Linked DNA regions of Homo sapiens. The protein of the gene in region 1 interacts with the protein of each later gene in a pairwise test. Each region holds a gene or a part of one and is shown in the gene's direction. Other genes may lie near its edges.

What was found.
Region 2: the proteins of PAK3 (region 1) and ARHGEF7 interact in a two-hybrid assay, tested with the Homo sapiens proteins (one study listed by BioGRID).
Region 3: the proteins of PAK3 (region 1) and RHOJ interact in binary tests that used the Homo sapiens proteins (3 or more experiments, as listed by UniProt).

What each region holds. Positions count from the first base shown.
Region 1 is NC_000023.11:111,093,937-111,097,688, forward strand, and holds the start of PAK3 (serine/threonine-protein kinase PAK 3), read left to right. Parts: upstream 1-2,254; 5' UTR 2,255-2,479; intron 2,480-2,606; exon of another isoform or gene 2,607-2,801; intron 2,802-3,453; 5' UTR 3,454-3,520; intron 3,521-3,638; 5' UTR 3,639-3,748; intron 3,749-3,752. UniProt on the Homo sapiens protein: Serine/threonine protein kinase that plays a role in a variety of different signaling pathways including cytoskeleton regulation, cell migration, or cell cycle regulation.
Region 2 is NC_000013.11:111,279,224-111,282,975, forward strand, and holds part of ARHGEF7 (rho guanine nucleotide exchange factor 7), read left to right. Parts: intron 1-1,048; coding exon 1,049-1,127; intron 1,128-1,314; coding exon 1,315-1,454; coding exon of another isoform or gene 1,455-1,511; exon of another isoform or gene 1,512-1,901; intron 1,902-3,752. UniProt on the Homo sapiens protein: Acts as a RAC1 guanine nucleotide exchange factor (GEF) and can induce membrane ruffling. Functions in cell migration, attachment and cell spreading. Promotes targeting of RAC1 to focal adhesions. May function as a positive regulator of apoptosis.
Region 3 is NC_000014.9:63,277,340-63,281,091, forward strand, and holds part of RHOJ (rho-related GTP-binding protein RhoJ), read left to right. Parts: intron 1-3,631; coding exon 3,632-3,752.

The sequences.
Region 1 (3,752 bases):
TAAAAAAGGTTCTTGTTTAACCCAAATAAATGCATTTTACAAATCAGAGATGTTAACATTGAATAAATTACATTCATTTTGATTTGTGATTTTTTTAGATTATTTTTACCATGGTGTAGAAAAAAACCAGTGGGATGTGGTTGCTTTTTTTTTTTAACTCCAAAGTTAGTTAAAAAGATATCTGTAAAATCACTGGAGTCAGAACCATCCTGATTCCAACTTATTAATGAAGGATTTGAGAAAGAGTGTTGTATATTTTTGCATTAAAGACAACCACGACACCAAAAAAGCTATTTTTAAAAATGCCTGATTTTTTAAAAATGCCAATCTTATATAGTCTGTTTCTTTTAAAGCAAGTATGTATTTTAACAAAACCAGTAATACCACATTTAATTCTTAGCAGTAGTAAACTGTATCATATTAGAAAAAGCATGGACTTTGGACTCATTTCGATACAAATCCCAGCTCTACCACTTTCTACAATGTTAATGTAATACTCATATATGCATTAATATATATATTTTGAATTTAGGAAAATAAAATGCAAACTGACCCTTAAAAATGGTCTGGATTACATCGTTTACTTAGTCTTTGCCTCCCTCTTTCTTGTTTTGGCATAGAGTGGATCATTGTTGTTGTTTTTCTCAATTCCCTGTATCATCACAATTTAAAATGAATCAGTCCAAAAGAGGCATCCCATTCTTCAACTGCCTGAGATGTTTTGTCTGGCGAATCTGTAGCTCTTTTTTTTTTTTTTTTTTTTTTTTTGGAGACGGAGTTTTGCTCTTGTTGCCCAGACTGGAGTGCAGTGGCGCAATCTCGGCTCACTGCAACCTCCACCTCCTGGGTTCAAGTGATTCTCCTGTCTCAGCCTCCCAAGTAGCTGGGATTACAGGCGCATGCCACCATGCCCAGTTAATTTTTGTATTTTTAGTAGAGACGGGGTTTCATCATATTGGTCAGACTGGTCTTGAACTCCTGACCTCAGGTGATCCGCCCGCCTGGGCTTCCCAAAGTGCTGGGATTACAGGTGTGAGCCACCGCGTGTGGTCATCTGTAGCTCTTTTGTACGACTTTTACTAAAAGGACCTGGGCAGATATATTAGTTCACTCTTGTTCTTGAAACCTATTTTGTTGGCATTATGGAGAAATTATTGCTGGATGTTACACAGTGTGGAGAAAATTGAATAAAAGTTCACTGGGAAGGGTCATGATCTATTTTGGCCATTTAAGTATGTGAGGATATATTTATCTTTATGAAAATAAATTTGAAAGTAGAAAGAAAAAGTTACTCATAATACTACTAGTTTAACCCAACGGTTACAATTTTATGTCCTCTTCTGATCGTTTTCTGTAGGCATATTTTACATCATTATAATTTGAATGTCCTTATTGTTTTGTATTATTTGACTTTTTATGGCAGCTTACTGTCGCCTTGCTGGGATTCACCATAATTTACATAATCTAGCCAAATCATGGGGAGTATGGATTTTGGAGTAGCAAGAGATTATTTTTGGAGTTAGATTTTATAAAGCTTTGGCCATCTGCAAAAATTTGAACCGTATCCTAAAGACAAGAGAAAGCTTTGAAGGTTTAAGGGAAAGGATGGACAGAGAGAATCGCATTTAAGCTCCATTTGAAGTAGAGTTATTTTTATTTTTTGTATAATTCCTTGCTTTTTGGAATGTGTGTGCTTCATATGCAGAAAAGTAGTTTCCCGATCTAGACTGCCATCTCTTTGAATTCCACTGCCACATCTGTCTCTCTTAGTTTTCTGTGTATTTTAGAGATTCCGTCAGTTTAACCTGCCTGGCTGACAGGTGGTGTCCCAAATCGAAACCGTTTTTTCCCCCGAATAAAGTGTGCCCGTGTAGCTGTACAGATTTCGTCCCCTGAAAATTCATCTGAAATCTCAATTCTCCTGAGGGGAGCAATTAAGGAAGATACATGAACTCTCCCCTCCTCTCCATCCTGTCAGGTGCCCCTCTTTTTTGATGGCCCCACCTCTGTCTAGACAACCCTGACAGTGTAGAAGTTTCCATCTCCTTTCCCTTTCCCTCTCCATGTTCCCTCCCCTTCAGTTTTTTCCCCCTCCCAGGCGCTTCCTGCCTGGAAACAAAAGATTGGTCCCCAGTAGCCCACTCAGGGCGATTTTAGTTTTATGCTCACCATCTGATTGGCCTAGGTAAGGTGCAGAGCTCGGGTGACGTAATAGCAGAGAAGGGCTAGGGAGCGGTTGCCGAGCAGGGGCTCTACCGCGGGCGGGCAGCTGTGCCAGCTAACCGTCTGGGATCTCGCACTGGGGGCTGCAGCTTTTCCCCGCCTCGAGCCAGTGTGCGGGGGCGGGAGAAGAGCCAGGGGGAGCGGGCTGGGCCCGGGGCTGCGGCTGCGGCCGCGGGGCTGCGGCTCCCCAGCCCCGCCAGCTGGAGCGCTCGGAGGTAGAGGAAAGGTCTTGACGGGGTGGCTGGATCCGTGGCAGGTAAATCCCGCGACTAACTGCACCCGGGCTACCGCGGGGGAGGGGGTGGCTGTTGGATGATGCTTTAAGGCTGCTGGGCAGATGTTCTGCCTTTCCGGACCCCCCTCCTGTCCTGTTTGTGCCCCAGCCTCGAGTCTCCTACGTGGCTCCCCGGAGCCCTGAGACCAAGCGAGCAGTTTGCATGATCCCAGTTCGCGGACAAGTGGGTGTGTCAGGGCCGTTCCCAGAGGGCCGGGGCTCCTTCGCTTGGTCAAACCCTAGACTCGTTTACTGGGGCCTGGGCCGCTTGAGGCAAAACCCGCCTTGAAAGCTACGTCAGCCTGTAAGTCTTCCCTTTCACCCCCCCGCCCGCCCCCCTACCCAGCCCCAGTAGCTGTGACAGCAGTTCCCTAGAAAAGGGGAGGGGGTGTGGCCACGGTCTGGCCAAGTCCGGGGTAGAACCCCCCCGCCCCTTACACACACACACACACACACACACACACACACACACACACACGAGGAAAGAGAAAAAGTGACGATTTTCTTAAACGGGCGCCTTCCCCTCTTTCTTTTATTTTTCTTTATCCCCCTCCCCTTTTTTTGGTGGGGGGATGGTAATAACAGGGGGACCCTTTTCTTCTCCTGTGGGGATTGGAATGATGCAATAACGCCCCCAGAAAGCTCAGGGTCCCTGGATTGGCCCTCTCTTTGTCTGGGGAGCAGTGTCATTGGGTCCACTGCCTCTCCTTCTCTCCTGTTCCCCTTAGCTCGCTGGGGGACATTGCCCTCAGTTTGTGAACTGGCTCTGGCAAGATTACTGCCGCACTTTTGGGTGAACTGAACATTTTAGATTCTTACTCTGGCAAGTTTTCCTTCCCTAGGTGGTGGTTAAGGGGTGGGGTGGGGTGGGGGATGGTGGGAAGAGGGGGATGCAGGCAAGGAGAGAGATAGAGGCCCCACTTGTTTTTTTTTTTTTTTTTGGTCCCACCTTTCAGAATCCAGTTCCAGATTCTAGACTTGAGGGTTCTGGGCTGTTGGTCTGTAGAAGCGAAGGAGAGAAGGGTGAGTGGCTTGGCTTTGGGAAGCATGATGGGGGCGGTTGCAGTGCTATTTTTAAAAAACGGCTTTCAGCAGGGAAGCCTTTAGCCATGTTAGTCTTGCTCCCCTCATGGTTTTGCAGACTCAAATCCAGGCCAAGTGTATGGCTGTCTGAGGTATTGGAACAGAAGGAGGTCCATTCCTGTTGGTGACAACACCGTGGCCCTGTTCTGGGATGAGCAAGGTGTAAAGGTCA
Region 2 (3,752 bases), on another chromosome or scaffold:
GAAGTGTCCAGCAGTCTCCTCTTCCACCGGCCATGCTTTAGGATGAGATTTCTCAGCCTGGGCACTGCTGACGTTCTGGACTGGATCGTTCATGGCCAGGGGCTGGGGGTCTCGGTGAGACTGTCCTGGGCACTGTAGGGTATCAGCAGCCTCTCTGGCCCTTACTTGCTGGAGGTCTGAGCCCCTGCCAGGTTGTGGCACTGCCACCCATTCTCTGTGGGGGCACGTTCCCCACACCAGTTGAGCAGCACTCCGTCTGGAGGTGCTTATGTAGAATCCTGCTCCGCAGCTGATGGAGTGCTCCCCAGGCAGCGCTGCCCAGACGCCCACTGCCTCTTCCTGCGGACTTGGTGGGCCACCATGTACTGTGGTTTCTGTCAGCTGTGCCAGGATGTTTTGTGTTCACTTCTGACTTGTTTGTAATGATCACTTTGTACCCCCTTTCTGGTATCTTTCCATTGACATTTCCTGGTGCAGTTACCGATTTCTTCTGTTTTCAGGGAGCACTGGTTTGCCAACCATTTTGTGCATTGTGTGCAGCATTTAGCACAACTACTTATTTTCTGTTTTACAAAGTAGAATGTTATGAAATTCTTGTTCTTGCCTCAATTTCCCACCCTTATTTTGACTTTAAACTTGGAACTTCCTCTGCATTTCTTTACGAGGAAAATACATGGTTCTTTTCTGCAAAAACATCATTTAAAACAACTGTTATACACGGTAGTTTTTTAAAAATCATAATGTGTGATGTCTTTTGTCCTGGTGTCTATGTTTAGTAGCAGCTCATCAGATACAGTGTGTGTTTGGGCTTGTCACTCTGTCCCTTGTCGCCAGTTGAGTTTCTTGCTTACAGTACAGTATTATAATTTATTATTTGAGATAAAAATTTTTGTATTATACACACATCTGCTACAAATGAGCTTTTTTTGGTTCACAAACACAGTTCCTCCACCAATTCTAAAATCATTTAATATTGACTTTAATAATGGTACCTTTTTCTAGAAAAGCACTAATTGTTTTTTTTTTTGTGGGGGGGGGTCTTTTTTAGGGAAAGCTTCCAACGACAGGAATGACAATCACAAAGCTTGAGGACAGTGAAAATCATAGAAATGCATTTGAAATATCAGGTGATAGGCACAAGCTGTGTGAGTGCTGTGTCTCGGGGAGGAGAGGCAGCTTGTCCCCGCGTGCAGATTCTTGCTTGCGTATTTCAGAAGGTGGTGTTTAAGCGCTGAGTGGAATTCTGGGGGGTGTGCACGCACGTGCTTTTTACCTGTGTTTCCACTCGGCCTATTTTTTCCTTCTCTCCTATAGGGAGCATGATTGAGCGGATATTAGTGTCGTGCAACAACCAGCAGGATCTGCAGGAATGGGTGGAGCACCTACAGAAGCAAACGAAGGTCACGTCTGTGGGAAACCCCACCATAAAGCCTCATTCAGTGCCATCTCATACCGTAAGGACTTGGTGCTTCTCCTCCTTCCAGACTCCAGGCGTGGCATCCCGTGGCTGAGCTGTCAGCAAGTGATCAGTTGCTTTAAAACCTAATCAATATTTGGATAAAAAGTGCAAAACACTTGCTTCACATTTCTCTGCAGATCTTTGGCCCTCTTCGTGCAGTAGTGAATTGTTTTCCAATGAGTGTTCTCGAGAAACAACCCTGAATTGTGCCTCCTCACGCACAGTTCAGAGGTGCTTGGGTGGGAAGCTGCTTCTGCTCCGTGTGGCCCTAGAAGACTGATTTAGGGGAGTTTTACACTCAACTATAGATGATTTTTCTGAGAATTTTAACTGTTTATTATGCTTCATTTAAGAAAACAAAAAATAAATGATTATGATGATGAAAAGGGCCAGACTCATGTTGAAGGCATTAAAAGAATTTATGACACACTGTTGATTTTAAGAAATTGAGGTGTCTTTTACTTAGAAAAGCTCAACAAGTCTTTGGATATTTAGAGACTTTTTTTTTTTTTTTTTTTTTTTTTTTTACAACTTTTCAGAATAGATGAACACTGAAGCTTCAGTGTTTAAACCTCTCCTGGTGTTTTGTGCTCAAGAAGTTGGTATCGGGTTGTTTTAACAGTCGTCATCTTTATCAAGTAATACGGAAAAACTGGGCAGAGCTTTTAAAGAATGAATGACGATGACACAGGCGTTTTCTGCTTACAGATTTCCTCACATCCTTATTAGGCTATTAGGATCAGCTCTGTCGTGTGCTCAGTTTTCATGTTTTCTTCTTCATGTGAAGGTTGTAGCTCAAGAAGGATTGCTGTACTCTGATATTCTCATCAGAGTTTCAGAGTCCATCTGATTTCTTTCAGCAGTAAAGATTGTAACTACTCATTGGCTTTTAGCTAGCATTTCATTTTTAATGGCTCTACCATTTTAAAATTCTCCATTCTTTCATGGAGATCAGTTTATCCCAGGGACGTGTGTGTACACGTGTGTTTATAAAGAACAGTGGATGAGCTGCTTCACTCAGGTTTTCAACAGCAGCCTGAAACTCTACTTCATACAATTTTATATCAAGTCAGCTTTTCTCTGTGGCCAGACCCTCCGTCTTAGTGTTTCTTTCACTGGTGGCTGGGAAGGCATCCCTTCAGCGGGGAAGGCACTGTGCCTCATGTTTAAAATGTTCTGCATTCTCCTACAGAGTTTCTTGTGTGGGATGATGTATTCTGTGATCCAACTCTGACCAGCTGAAATCATTTTCTAATTTTAGCATAAAGCATACTTCCTTTGACTTTTTCAAGAAAGGAGAAACAAAACCAGACACTGCTTTGACGTTGTTGCTAGAAGGGATGTCTTACATAATTTTATCCATCTATACATTATTTCCTATGAAAAGATGACCTTACAGTGGCTTCATAGCATGACCTGCATCTCACACAATTCCCTCCCCCATGCAGGGACTAGAATGTGATCGTTGCAGGAAGTTGATGGCTTCTATTCTTGAAATTGTGGCATTAGCTGCCGTCCCTCTCAGCCTGTGTTTTGAAGGTCGCGCACTTCCTCAGAATGCCGGCCCCACTCCGTTTCCAGTTCACAGCGCCACACAGCTTGTTCTCCCATTAAATGCACCTTACTATTGTTGGCTAATTTGAGGTCATTATTGGCTGATTTTGAGAATGACTTATTTAACTTTTCTCATTTAACTGTCATTGTGATGGAATATTTTGGGTTTTCCAGGAATATAAAATGCATTAATGGCACACCGCTCTAAGAAGTTAATTTTTGATTAACTTTGTTTTGATTAAAGTTGAGTTTTCTAAGAACATAATTGGTTTTAATACCAGGGTTTGGCAGTGTTCAGTAAAGATCCAGATGGTAAACGTTCTCTGCTTTACAGGTTCAGGCCTCTTGCAGCTGTACTCTGCCCTTGGAACACAACAGCAGTTTTAGACAGGCACAGGCCTGCCTGTGTGCCAGGAAAACTTTTTTAAAAAACAAAACTAGGCGATCAGGCCTTAGTTTCGCCCAGTACTTTATCACCAGGTGAAGAATAATACGTGGCTGGGGGGGAATCACCTTCCTTCTTACAGCCACATGCCCTGTGTGCTTTTGTGAAATTCTCATCTTTTTACTAGATGAAGTACCTTTTTTCTATAAATGTTACTCCGTAGCTAATAAATGTGGCTAGTGGATGTCTTTTGAGTGCTGGGGCCCCAGCTAGAGCTGCCCCTCCTGTCTGGGGCAGACGCCGTGAGGAGCCCCACGCTCGGCCCAGGTGGCGCGAGCTAGTGTTTGGCCCCAA
Region 3 (3,752 bases), on another chromosome or scaffold:
TCCATTAATGTTGGAGATGATAGTGAAGTACAGCCGTGTTCTCAACTCCAGGTCCACCCCAAACCAATTAAGTCAGAACTCCCAGATACGCAGGCCCACTCTCCAGAGATTCTAATTTAGCTGGTTCCAGAGTAGAAAAGGGGGTGGAGCAAGGAGTTGATTAGCAGAGCTTCAGGATGGTTTAAAAGCTCCCCAGGTGATTCTAATAAAAGTCACTGCAATAAATGGCCCACAGAAGTGCCACGTGTTCATTTGCAGGTCACTGTAGAGGTCATTTCTTCCAGTCTGTCAATAGCATTTATTGAATATTTACTGCGGAAAGAGTACCTGTAGGGATGAGAAAAAAATCAACATGGTCCCTACTCCATTTATGACAATCCAGATGGGAGCATGCAGTGGCAGAGGGCAGGTGGTGTGGTGAACAGCTGTAGATTATAGCCTGGGAAGGAGACTTCTTGGCTCACGGGCCTTACAGCTGCTCTTTAAGGGAACACTCCAGAGAGAAAAGAGAGAAGTGGGGAGACCATGGAAGAGGAGGTTTGTTTTTCAGAGCTAGTTGTGTAAAGAGGAGAGGGTAGTGCCAAGAATTTAGCTATCCCTTTCTCCACTGCCTCACCAGCTACACAAACACACACACACACACACACACACACACACACACAGACATAGGCACAACTTGGCTGAGATGCAACCCAGTAGACCTGGCACAACTTCCCAGTATGACCAGTGATTATTCAGCTGTGCACCCAACTCCCAATTATTGACTAGAAATGTGGTAAATTAGCCACAATAGTGGGGGTTTTTTTTGTTTTGGGTTTATTTTTTAGGATTTTACTTTTCAGCATCATTGCCCTCTTGCTTTGCATTTTGCATTAGGTACCTAAAACCTGTGCTTAAGTTTTAATAGTAGTAGCAGTAGTGGCCACATATACTGAGTCCCGTGTTCTGCATACTCTGAGTAGCTAAACAATAGATCAATGCATGCCCACCAACAGGAGTGGACCATACTTAACATTCTAAGGTACTTCCTTTCAGTCTCATGTGTATGTAGTGTGCACATGTGTGTACTTCCTTTTCTGGTCTTTTTTAAAATTTTTTTTATTATACTTTAAGTTCTGGGATACATGTGCAGAACGTGCAGGTTTGTTACATAGGTATACACGTGCCATGGTGGTTTGCTGCACCCATCAACCCGTTATCTAATAAATATATTATTAGAGTCAATAGAAAGGTTGATATTAAAAATATATCCATGATATATTGTTTTAAAAAACACAAGTGGCACAACAATATGAACAATTTAATCAATTTGTTTTTAAACTAAACATGTGTATGTGGTATACATACATAAATATAAAATGGGCCAGGTATGGTGACTCACGCCTATCATCCTAGCACTTTGGCGGGGGCTGAGGCAGGAGGATTGCTTGAGCCCAGGAGTTCAAGACCAGCCTGGGCAACACAGTGAGACCCCCATCTCTACAAAAAAAATAAAAATTGGCTGGGTGTGGTGGCATGTGCCTGTAGTCCAAGCTACTTGGGAGGCTGAAGTGGGAGTATCGCTTGAGCCCGGCAGTCTGAAGCTGCAGTGAGCCATGATCACGCCATTGCACTCCAGCCTGGGCAATAGATTGAGACTCCATCTCAAATAATAAAATAAAGTAAAATAAAATGTTTGGAAGGACAATGTTTAAGCAGTAGCTCCCTCTGGGGAGAGGAAATACTATTAGACATCATATCAGGGATGAAAACAAGCTTTCACTTCAACTCTGTGTACTTCTTCAATGTTTGCATTTTTGCAATGAGCACATACATGTTTTGTAAGTTTCTGAAATGTTTCATGAAGAGTAGTCATGCCCCTAATAAATGAGTTAATTATTTATTAACCCATCTCTATGAATACATGTATATCATAGGTGTGAACATATAAGTTTAGTTGCACATATAGTATACACACATATATAGTGCACACACATCATATATAGTGTGTATACACATACAAATTATGTATGGTGTGTATGGACACATGTCATGTTGCGATATGTGATGTATATATAAATATGGTATGTGTATGCACGCTTACACACAAAGTTACTGTCTGTTTATGTGTTACTAAATTCTATAAAAACATATAAAACTTTCTATTGAAATATCAGGTTTTACCGTGGAACCTCCTAAAACATTTTACATACAGTAAAAGCCCTTGCCAACATTTTCCCAAAGTCGAAATGATGCGCAGTTTTACTTTGTATTTATCAACTCCCACTAAAATAGCAAATACATAAATATCTTATGTAACCAGAAACTCTTCCATGAGCATATTCTGCTCTGAAAAATCTTTAGAAAGAAAATAATTAAGCCAGCATTTTATTTGGCCTTTAAGTAATACTTGAAACAAATCCAAAATTCTTAGCTCTAAACCCTCACTCAACATATTTCTTCAAATATTGTGGTGTCAAATTTGGCAATAACTCTTGTTTTGCATGTTAGTTCATTTATTCTAAATTAAATTTGGATATAATTTTTTTTAATCGTGTGAGGAGAGGATTCCTGTTGCCTTGGCAAATAGCTCACTAATTTAAATATAGTATATTCAATATAACACAATTCCAACATGATGGAAGAATTGCAATAATCTTTACTGAATGTTACACTTTAAATGGGTGAACTTTTGGTCTTTTGTTTTATTTTGTTTGTTTTTTGAGACAGGGTCTTGCTGTGTTGCCCAGGCTGGAGTACAGTGGCATGATCACGGCTCACTGCAGCTTCAAACTCCCAGGCTCAAGCCATCCTCCCACTTCAGCCTCCTGAGTAGCTGGGACTACAGGCGTGTGCCACCATGCCCAGCTAATTTTAGTATTTTTTTGTAGAGATAGGGTCTCGCTATATTGCCCAGGCTGATCTCAAGCTCAAGGAATCAGGTGATCCTCCCGCCTTGGCTTCCAAAGTGCTGGGATTACAGGCATGAGCCACTGTGCCTGGTCAGGTGAACTTTTGAATACATAGAAACAGAGAGTAGAACTATTGTTACCAGAGGCAAGTAAGGAAAGGAAACGGGGAGGTTTTGATCAAGGGTACAAAGCTGCAGTTAGCTAGGGTGAATAAGTCTACAGCTGTAATATACAGCATGATAACTATAGTTAATAATACTATATTGCATACTGGAAATATGCTAAGAGAGTAGGTCTCTGGTCCTCTCACCGTAAAATATATTTTTAAAGGTAAGCTGTAAGGAGATGAATATGTTAATTTGTTTCACTGTAGCATATATATGTATATCAAACACCATGTTGTACACCTTAAATGTATACAATTTAAAAATAAAAATAAATGGGTGAACTTTATGGTATATATAGGTAGGTATATAAGTTATATCTCAATAAAACTGCTAAAAATATTTTAAGTTCATCTTAAGAAGGGGCAATACATAATCTCTGTACGTAACAAAAAGGTATTTTTCTGACTGATGGCTCCTTTAGTTCTAGTAGAGAAAGAACTACCAGATTCCAGGGTTGAGGAAGAAACGGGATCCCAGTGCGCTGTAGTGGACTCTTACCTGAAATCTGACCTTGGAACTACATGGGACACACCTTACACAGGCTGTACAAACCCTTGTCTGCTCTTCCCACAGGAGGACTACAACCAGCTGAGGCCACTCTCCTACCCCAACACGGATGTGTTTTTGATCTGCTTCTCTGTCGTAAACCCTGCCTCTTACCACAATGTCCAGGAGGAATGGGTCCCCGAGCTCA